Homo sapiens: one gene and its partners. The protein of the gene in region 2 purifies or fractionates together with the protein of the main gene of each other region. This does not show direct contact. Each region holds a gene or a part of one and is shown on either strand. Other genes may lie near its edges. The genes, in order: DNAJC17, SUPV3L1 and ARMC1.

Region 1 (3,848 bases), on a different chromosome or scaffold from region 2:
GAAGCCCTGGGACCCATTGCCTGGAGCCAGGCAATGTGTGCTTACACCCCACAGCACTCACATGCAGAGCTTACATCGGGAAACACAATGCCCGGGTGAGTGGGTTTCTTTCTCCCCACGCCCTGAGAAGAGTCTCACCTGCTCTGGGATTATCTGGATTTTTGTCTGGGTGGCAGGAGAGGGCCTTCTGCCTATACGCCTTCTTTACCTGGAAGAGTCAGACAGAAGACATGGCCATTCACTCTCATCCCAGGGACAAACAGGAAAACCTTGCTCAATGGGTAAGGGGAATCCCATGCACACCTAAAAGAGAAGCTGCTGGCGCCCACTTCCTAGCCACCAGGGAGACTGGCAATGGAGGAGGCCAAGGCCATGGAGGGAGTGAGCCACTGTCGCCCAGCACAGGAGCTGGGCCCACCTCCTGCTAAGTGCTCAACCTCACCACTGCAGATGTCCAGGGGCTGCTGCAACAGGCAGGAGCACAGTACCCCGCTTTCTCGACAGCCACTCGAAGACAGGTACTCTACACATTCTTGGTGGGCATATAAACTGGGGCAACCTATCTGGAAGAAAATTCAGCCATCAAAATTTAAAATGTTCTTTCCCTTTGACCCAAGTCCTAGGAATCTGGACTTGTAGAAGTATGGCAAAAATAAATATACAAGGATGCTCTCTACAACACTGTTGATACTAGCCAGCCAAGATCCCCATCAACGGGGAGACTCATTTAAAAGATTATGATTGGCCGGTGCGGTGGCTCACGCCTGTCATCCCAGCACTTTGGGAGGCTGAGGTGGACAGATCACCTGAGGTCAGGAGTTTGAGACCAGCCTCACTAACATAGTGAAACTCCATCTCTACTAAATATACAAAAATTAGCTAGGCATAGTGGCGGGCAGCTGTAATCCCAGCTACTTGGGAGGCTGAGGCAGGAGAATCGCTTGAACCGAGGAGGCGGAGGTTGCAGTGAGCCGAAATCGCACCACTACACTCCGGCCTGGCGACAGAGCAAGACTCTGTCTCAAATAAAATAAAATAAAATAAAATAAAAAATAAAATAAAAGATTATGATTGAGGCCGGACATGGTGGCTCACGCCTGTAATCACAGCACTTTGGGAGGCTGAGGCGGGTGGATCACTTGAGGTCAGGAGTAGGAGACCAGCCTGGCCAACATGGCGAAACCCCATCTCTACTAAAAATACAAAAATTAGCTGGGTGTGATGACATATTCCCCTGTAATCCCCCTACTTGGGAGGCTGAGGCATGAGAATCGCTTGATTCATGCAGGAGGCAGAGGTTGCAGTGAGCCAAGATTGTGCCACTACACTCCAGCCTGTGGGACAAGAGCGAGACTCCATCTCAGAAAAAAAAAAAAAAAAAAAAAGATTATGATTGGCCAGACATGGTGTAATCCTGTAATCCTGGCATGTAATCCTGTAATCCTCATGCCTGTAATCCTGGCACTTTGGGAGGCTGAGGTGGGCAGATCACTTGAGGTCAGGAGTTCGAGACCAGCCTCGCCAACAAAGCAAAACCCTGTCTCTATTAAAAATACAAAAATTAGCCGGGCATGGTGGCGTGCACCTGTAGACCCAGCTACTTGGGAGGCTGAGGCAGGAGAATCACTTGAGCCCCAGAGGCGGAGGTTGCAGTGAGCCGAGATCATGCCATTGTACTCTAGCCTGAGTGACAGAGGGAGACCTTGTCTCAAAAAAATAATAAAAAATAAATTTCAAAAAGTTTGTTCAGGAATTTGCCACGCTTATTAAAATTTTTTTTAAATAAAATATTATAGTAGACAGAGGTATCCATGTTCTGACATAGATCTTATTATAAACTTTTGAGTTTAGTCCAGGTGCGGTGGCTCAAGCCTGTAATCCCAGCACTTTGGGAGGCCGAGACAGGTGGATCACGAGGTCAGGAGATTGAGACCATCCCGGCTAACACGGTGAAACCCCGTCTCTACTAAAAATACAAAAAAATTAGCCAGGCATGGTGGCGGGCGCCTGTAGTCCCAGCTACTCGAGAGGCTGAGGCAGGAGAATCGCTTGAACCTGGGAGGCAGAGGTTGCAGTGAGCCGAGATCACACCATTGCACTGCAGCCTGGGAGACAGAATGAGACTCTGTCTCAAAAAAAAAAAATTTTTTTTTGTCAGGTGTGGTGGTGCATGCCTGTAGTCCCAGCTACTCAGGCGGTTGAGGCGAGAGGATCGCTTGAGCCCAGGAGTTCCAGCCAAGCCTGGGCAACATGGCAAGACCTCATCTCTACAAAAATTTTTTAAACATGAGCCAGGTGTGGTAGCATGTGCCTTTGTCCCCCTACTCAGGAGGCTGAGGTGGGAGGATCACTGGAGCCCGGGAGGTTGAAGCTGTAGTGAGCATGTTCACACCACTGCATTTCAGCCTAGGTGACAGAGTGAGACCTTGTCTCAAAAATAAAAATAAAAAAATTTTAAATTAAATTAAAATAAAATAAAAAATTAGCCAGGCATAGTGGTGCGTGCCTGCAGTACCAGCTACTAAGGAGGTTGAGGAGGGAGGATCACCTCAGCCAAGGATTTTGAGGCTGCCGTGAGCTATGATGATGCCACTGCACTCCAGCCTGGGTGACAGAGCAAGACTCTCTCTTAAATACATAGAAAGAAAGAAACCCCAATATTTCTTACATAAGTAAAAATAAACACAGCTACCAAGATTCTCTTTCGTGTGCTACCTAATAGCTGTTGTAAGTGAAGACAGTGTACACAACCCCAGAATCCGTCCTCTGCCTCCAAGGCCTTTGCTTTCTCCCTTCTGCTTGGTGTGTGTTACCTGCTGCTCAAACCTCCTGGAGGAAGAGCTAAGCAGATTGGATTTCTAAGCTTCCAAGATGGACGCAAGAAACGCTTCTACACCCAAGTGTGCTAAATAAGGACTTTCAGAGGTAAGCAGCCAGCATCCACAAGGTGAGCACCTGCTGGGCAACTCCTCCATCCATGAGGCAGCCACCGGGCCCAGGACCTCTAGGGGTGTGCTGCCACCTGCTGGGCCATAGCCAGGGCACCTGCCATGGCAGCCCAAGCTGTTTGGTTCTCCTGACTGCCTTGGAGGCAGCAGGAACCACCCAGGACAGGCGCTGGGCAGAGAGGGTGTAGACGTGCCACCTGCCTTCCCAATCGCCCACCGAAGCACATCTGCCCTGCCTGCTCACCTCCCACCCTAACCCTCCCTGCCTAGCTCTGTTTTCACTACAAAAAAGAACAATATTAAGGGAAAGGAGGTGCTAGCTTAAGACAGTGTCATCTTTGCAATATATCATCTTTACTTTTTAGGTCCCTTATCATTCGTCTTTTCTTTCTTTTGCTCTCTTTGCCTGCTTTATTGTGCCTCCAGCCTCATTCCTTTACTGAACATATTTTATATTTCAGGGCCCCTGTTTGCTTTTTTTCAATAAGTAAAACAATACCAAAAACATTATAAAGATGTTCTTTCTCAATCTCCCCAGCCCTCTGACATCAAGGTTCATTAACACATATAAAAGCACCTACACACACTGACAGGAGTCTGTTGGGTGTTTGTTCCTGGCCTCTGGGCCCCTCCTCTCTGATCCTATCTCCACCCTCTCTCTGGGATGGGTGAGAGGAAGGGAGGGGGAGGCGGTCCATGTCCCAGTATCTATGGCATCACCTGCAACACTACCTTCAAGATGAACTTCCTCAGGACTAGGACTAGTAGGCTTGCCCCAGGGATGTAGGGGGGTTTTGTGGAAGATGTTTTCTTTTGTATCATGGGGCTCTTTTAAAGTGGTTTAGGCTGGGCATGGTGGCTCACACCTCTAATCCCATCGCTGTGGGAGGCCGAGGTGGG
Region 2 (3,500 bases):
GTTTATAAGGTACATACAGTTCTGAACCGCTTCCCTCACTTACTGTTATAGTGTAACCACTTATGTAGATTTCTTCATTATAATCATAATTATCATTGCAATGTCTTCCTAATATCCAATCAAGTGGATATGCCATAATGTAGTTAACCTTTTCCCTCTTGTTGGACATTTGGATCCTTTCAAAAACATTTTTAATAATTAAAATATTAGGCTGGACTAGGTGGCTCATGCCTGTAATCCCAGCACTTTGGGAGGCTGAGGTGGGATGATCACTTGCCTCCAGGAGCTCGAGACCAGCCTGGGTAACATAGAGAGATCTGTCTCTACAAAAAATGCAAAAATTAGCTGGGCATGGTGGCACATGCCTGTAGTCCCAGCTACTTGGGAGGCTGAGGTGGCAGGATCACTTGAGCCAGGGAGGTTGAGGTTGCAGTGAGCTGTGATTGCACCATTGCACTCCAGCCTGGGCAACAGAGCAAGACCCTGCCTCAAATATAAAATAAATAAAATTAAATTAAATAAAAGTATTGTTATGATAAACCTTGGTAGAGTTTTGTTTTTTTTTTTTTTGAGACAGAGTCTCGCTCTGTCACCCAGGCTGGAGTGCAATGGTGCGATCTTGGCTCACTGCAACCTCTGCCTCCTTGGTTTAAGTGATTCTCCTGCCTCAGCCTCCCGAGTAGCTGGGATTACAGGTGCCCACCACCATGCCCGGATAATTTTTGTATTTTTAGTAGAGACAGGGTTTCACCAGCTTGGCCAGGCTGGTCTCGAATTCCTGACCTCAAGTGATCCACCCGCCTCGGCCTCCCAAAGTGCTGGGATTACAGGCGTGAGCCACTGCACCCGGCCTTGGTAGAGATTTATGGTTCTCCATAGTCCACTGTCCTTCCTGGCCCCCAGGAATCCTGTGCTTCTCAGAAGTCAGAGATTTGCATCCCTACCCAAATGAGTTAAAAGAGGCTAGAACCCTGGCATGGTGCTCATACAAGACAGTAACCCCTGGCTCAGTGCTTTACACTTAAGAAAACTGAACACTGTTGCTACTATTAACCCCTATTTAAGTTTTTACAAAGTCTCTCATATTACTGAATACTCTTGTAATTATTTTATTTTGAATAACAAAGTACTGTTTGGGGAACCTGCATCAACCAGAAGGAACTCAAAATAGCTTAAAGATAAAGGCTTACCTGTAACAGTGAAGAACACACAAAAGGCTGCTTCTTGTTGATAGGAGCTGTGCAGAAAACATACCTCACTCGCAGACTTAGTGGAATATGCTGGATCAACTCTGCAGAAAATTTAAAATCATCCATATTGCAGACAAAATACTGCCCATCAACTTGTGAAAAGTCTACAAAAATATCCTTGGGGAAAAAAAGACAGAAATTACTGGACTGCCTAAGTGAATTAAAATGAACAATGAATAACATACTCAAGTCTATAAAAGACAATCTCTTTAATCCAGAACAAACTTCCATAAAGGCTTGCTTTAATCACTCCCTCATATCCTTCCCCACCTGAAATACTGAGAGGAAATTCCTCAGGGCTAAAGTCCCAAAAGATTTTGAGAAAAAATTTTCACTTGTAAAATAAATTTTATAAATAGCAACTTCTCAAAGGCAGACTATCCATTCATGCTCATGAGGTTAACCAGTAATCACCTGACATATCAACATTTTTAGGGGAGATGTGAAAGGGAGTTTCCACTTACAATGAGATTGGACAGTGTTGCATCAGGGAGATGGTAGGCAAACATTTCAATCTGCTCAGCAGTTGGATGAAGACCAGCTGCCTTTTAGTAAAAGAAAAAACAATCATAAGCTGATTTTTTTTTTTTCAAAAAGGACAAATTTTCTTAAGTTATTGCACGATAAAGTCCCATTCAGGCTAAGCTCTCACCATATGAAGTAAATGCCAAGAATTTGAGTAAAAGAGAAAAAATATCATTTTACCATTTATTACCAATTAGAAAAGTTGATGATTTAGTAAAAATGACAGATTATGGCCACTGAGAAATTAGTCTTTTGCTTACATTTTAGTTATATTTCTAAAACCTATGATGATCTGGCAGTGTACAAAAAATGATTTTATGGGCTGGGTGTGGTGGCTCATGCCTGTAATCCCAGCACTTTGGGAGGCCAAGGTGGGCGGATCACGAGGTCAGGAGATTGAGACCATCCTGCCCAACATGGTGAAACCCCGTCTCTACTAAAAATGCAAAAATTAGCTGGGTGTGGTGCTGCGTGCCTGTAATCCCAGCTACTCGGGAGGCTGAGGCATGAGAATCACTTGAACCCAGCAGGCAGAGCTTGCAGTGAGCCGAGATCGCGCCACTGCACTCCAGCCTGGCGACAGAGCAAGACTCCGTCTAAAAAAAAAAAAAAGATTTTACGGCCAGGTGCAGTGGCTCATGCCTGTAATCCCAACACTTTGGGAGGCCAAGGTGGGAGGATTACTTGAGGACAGTAGTTCAAGATCAGCCTGGGCAACAAAAGGAGATTCCCATCTCTACAAAAAATTTTTAAAAAATCAGCCAAGCATGGTGGTGAGCACCTGAAGTCCCAGCTGCTCAAGAGGCTGAGGTGCAAGGCTCTCCTGAGCTCAGGAGATTGGGGTTACCGTGAGCCGTGATCATGCCACAGCACTGAAGCCTGAGTAACAGAGTGAAACACTATCTCAAAAAAAAAAAAAAAGGAAAGAAAAACCTGTTTTCCAGGGTAAAACCATTTTCCATGTCTCATTTCTCCTCATTGAATTAAAATGAATAAGAAAAACCCAGTCACTTTAACCAAGGCAATAAAACTAACATAGATATATACATCTAGAAAGACATGAGAACATTTTTAAACTGGAAGTGAGTTCTCTTTAGCTACACATTACACCGTTAGGACATGGCCACAGGAAAGTATAAGGAATGAAGTATGAAACAGAGAGAGAAAGTGAATGAAAAAGACAGAAGAAAAGAGGCAAGAGAAATTAGTCATAAGGGAGGGAAGAAGAGTCCAAGACATGAGGTGCCCAGGAGGGAAGCAGGGAGGTCACAGGAGCCAACCACGAACCTAACTGTACTGCTGAGAAGTTACAGAAATGATTCCAGCACAGCCTTCCCCTGGAAGCTTCTCTCCCTGCATGCTTCTCCCTGTATGATCTCATGTCTATACTCCCCTTCATCTAGTGTCACAAATGAGATAAGCCATGTAAGTGAATTTTCCAGGGAACTTTAAATTTTGACTATTACTAGAAAGTTTGTTTCAAATATGTACAATTCTAACTCATTAACTAATATTAACCAAAATTTAACCTTCTCCTCACTGGATGAAGTTGTATTGCTTAGGGCTGTTTTTGCCCCAAGCAATACAAGGTTTCGTCTATATTCAGGCTTCTGGTCATTTTTCAGTCCACTAATGTAGCTCTGTGTGCTCAGCTGAAGAAACTGCTTTTCTCCCTGTTCCTTCCCGCTGCTAGATTCCGGAAGGAAGTAAAGGCAAATCAGGCTC
Region 3 (3,500 bases), on a different chromosome or scaffold from region 2:
ACATTTGGCCAGGCACAGTGGCTCATGCCTGTAAACCCAGCACTTTGGGAGGCCAAGGCAGGTGGATCACTTGAGGTCAGGAGTTCAAGCCTGACCAACATACTGAAACCCCATCTCTACTAAAATACAAAAATTAGCTGGGTGTGGTGGCGCATGCCTGTAATCCCAGCTACTCAGGAGTCTGAGAGAGGAGAATCACTTGAACCCGGGAGGCAGAAGTTGCAGCAAGCTCAGATCACACCACTGGGCTCCAGCCTGGGTGACAGAGGGAGACTCCATCTCAAAAAAAAAAAAAACCACACGTTTAATAAAAATAATCAAATACAAAATCAACTAACAAGATCAGGTTGTAACATGTTCCTGTATTATCACTAACATTCAACTCTCAATTTGAAAGTACCTTGACTTTTAAGAAAATACAACATATAAAAATCCAAAAGGAGAAACCAAATTTGAAAAGGATCATTCATACTATCAACTAATTTCAAGATTTCTTTGTATGTTAAAACCAATTTTTTAATTTACATTTTTTACATATTACAAATTATGTGTTTATCATAAAACCACAGCTCTAACAAAAGTTTTCATTCTTAAGCTTTTAAATCCTACTACAGATCCTCACATCAACATCTAGGGGACTGTGCTGTCCAATAATCTTTCTGCAATGATAGAAATGTTCTATAGCTGCACTCTCCACTCACATGAGGCTACTGAGCACTTGAAATGTGGCTAGTGCAACTAAAAAAAATTAATTTACCTTTAATTAATTTAAATTGCCAAACAGAGTGAGTGGCTAACCATACTGGACAGCACAGTCTAATGGCTCTTATTAGTGGAACTGAACAAAGAGTAAGTACATGTAACTGTAAGAAAAGAATCCTCATTTCACCTATCAATGGGCTCAACTAAGTCCAAACCCTTTAATGTACACTCAAGGCCTTAAAATCTGGCCCCATTTGGCTATCTCCATCAGCTCATTTTGTCCTTCTATTATTCTTTGGGTTGACTATGACACTTGGCCATCTCCTACAAAGACCATGCATTTTTATATGTTCTTTGTTCTAGAATGCTTTCTACCCTTAAGTTTTGTTCAGGTCTTTCCTTAGCTGGAAGAGCTTCACCCAGACTGCAGGCTTTCCAACTCTTATTTCAATGCTTGAAGGGTCAGCTTGACCAACACCTTCTATATAATGCCTCTACCTAATAACCCAATTCTCCCTTTGCATTCAGAGTACTATGCTTGTACTTATACTACTGATCTTAATTTTCTATTTCTTTTATAAGTATATGAACTCTTTAAGAGGAGGAAGGTATCCTTTTTGTACCTTCCATAGAACCTAACAAAAATGTTTGCAAGTTATTTAGTGAATGAGTAGGAATACTTCAATTTCTGATACTCAGATTGTATATGTTCTAGCTACTTAGAGCTTTAATTCCAGGGGTGATAATCTGACAGTATTCCAGACACTCAATTACTATATCAAGTGCTTTTCTGAGCCACTGTTGACCACAGAGATAAGTTACTTTGGGTGACTTTAGCCGTGTGTTACAGAAAGCTATCAAAAGGACTAATTTGTATTAGTTGCCTCAGCATTTTTATTGATAGCTATTTTAGAGTTTATTGAAAAGTCACTGCAGTTCTCAGATATTTTAAATATTAACCAAGAACAAGTTATAAAGAGCATGAAGAGACAATGATTAGAGAAACTTACGAACTTAAGTTAAAAAAAAAAAAAAAAAAACAGGGCCGGGTACAGTGGCTCATGCCTGTAATTCCAACACTTTGTGAGGCTGAGGTGGGTGGATCACCTGAGGTTAGGAGTTCGAGCCCAGCCTGGCCAACATGGCGAAACCCCGTCTCTACTAAAAAAGCACAAAAACTAGCTGGGCGTGGTGGCAGGTGTCTATAATCCCAGCTACTCAGGGGGCTGAGGCAGGAGAATCACTTGGACCTGGGAGATGGAGGTTGCAGCGAGCCAAGATCCTACGACTGCACGCCAGCCTGGGTGACAGAATGAGGCTCCCTCTTAAAAAGAAAAAATGAATAAATAAAATAAAATAAAATAAAGTAGCCAGGTGTGGTGGTGGGTGCCTGTAATCCCAGCTACTCAGGCGGTGGAGGCAGGAGAATCACTTGAACCCAGGAGGCGGAGGTTGCAGTGGGCCGAGATCATGCCATTGCACTCCAGCGTGGGCAACAAGAGCAAGACTCCGTCACAAAAAAAAAAGAAGAAAGAAAAACTGTATTATTGTTACTCCTTTCCATTGTCAATAGTTTTGCATCAACTAGAAAATGAATCATAACACATAATAAAACATCCAATAACTGTCATACATTTTTTGAAAACCTGGATTATTTCAAAACTGTTTAATATGCTTAATGAAGCAATAGTGACAAAAAATATTAAAATACTAAAACATAAATTATCTTTCTGTTTTGCATAAAAACTGTAACAGTAATTCCCTCTCCCCTCTCCCCTCTTCCCGGTCTCCCTCTGATGCCGAGCGGAAGCTGGACTGTACTGCTGCCATCTCGGCTCACTACAACCTCCCTGCCTGATTCTCCTGCCTCAGCCTGCCGAGTGCCTGCGATTGCAGGCACGCGCTGCCACGCCTGACTGGTTTTCGTATTTTTTTGGTGGAGAGGGGGTTTCGCTGTGTTGGCCGGGCTGGTCTCCAGCTCCTAACCACGAGTGATCTGCCAGCCTCGGCCTCCCGAGGTGCCGGGATGGCAGACGGAGTCTGGTTCACTCAGTGCTCAATGGTGCCCAGGCTGGAGTGCAGTGGCGTAATCTCGGCTGGCTACAACCTCCACCTCCCAGCCGCCTGCCTTGGCCTCCCAAAGTGCCGAGATTGCAGCCTCTGCCCGGCCGCCACCCCGTCTGGGAAGTGAGGAGCGTCTCTGCCTGGCCGCCCATCGTCTGGGATGTGAGGAGTGCCTCTGCCCGGCTGCCCAGTCTGGGAAGTGAGGAGCGCCTCTTCCCGGCCGCCATCACGTCTAGGAAGTGAGGAGCGTCTCTGCCCGGCCACCCATAGTCTGAGATGTGGGGAGCGCCTCTGCCCCGCCGCCCCGTCTGGGATGTGAGGAGCGCCTCTGCCCAGCCGCGACCCCGTCTGGGAGGTGAGGAGCGTCTCTGCCCGGCCGCCCTGTCTGAGAAGTGAGGAGCCCCTCCACCCGGCAGCCGCCCTGTCTGAGAAGTGAGGAGCCCCTCCGCCCGGCAGCCGCCCCGTCTGAGAAGTGAGGAGCCCCTCCGCCCGGCAGCTGCCCCGTCTGGGAAGTGAGGAGCGTCTCCGCCCGGCAGCCGCCCCATCCAGGAGGGAGGCGGGGGGCAGCCCCCGCCCGGCCAGCCACCCCGTCCGGGAGGTGGGGGGCGCTTCTGCCCAGCCGCCCCTTCTGGGAAGTGAGGAGCCCCTCTGCCCGGCGGCCACCCTGTCTGGGAGGTGTACCCAACAGCTCATTGAGAACGGGCCATGATGACGATGGCGGTTTTGTCGAATAG

What was found.
Region 1: the proteins of SUPV3L1 (region 2) and DNAJC17 fractionate together in Homo sapiens (co-fractionation; one large-scale study listed by BioGRID). This does not show direct contact.
Region 3: the proteins of SUPV3L1 (region 2) and ARMC1 fractionate together in Homo sapiens (co-fractionation; one large-scale study listed by BioGRID). This does not show direct contact.

Annotation. Positions count from the first base shown.
Region 1 is NC_000015.10:40,779,790-40,783,637, forward strand, and holds part of DNAJC17 (dnaJ homolog subfamily C member 17), read right to left. Parts: intron 209-3,848; coding exon 139-208; intron 1-138. UniProt on the Homo sapiens protein: May negatively affect PAX8-induced thyroglobulin/TG transcription.
Region 2 is NC_000010.11:69,200,734-69,204,233, reverse strand, and holds part of SUPV3L1 (ATP-dependent RNA helicase SUPV3L1, mitochondrial), read right to left. Parts: intron 1,796-3,500; coding exon 1,715-1,795; intron 1,368-1,714; coding exon 1,191-1,367; intron 1-1,190. UniProt on the Homo sapiens protein: Major helicase player in mitochondrial RNA metabolism. Component of the mitochondrial degradosome (mtEXO) complex, that degrades 3' overhang double-stranded RNA with a 3'-to-5' directionality in an ATP-dependent manner.
Region 3 is NC_000008.11:65,613,678-65,617,177, forward strand, and holds part of ARMC1 (armadillo repeat-containing protein 1), read right to left. Parts: intron 1-3,500.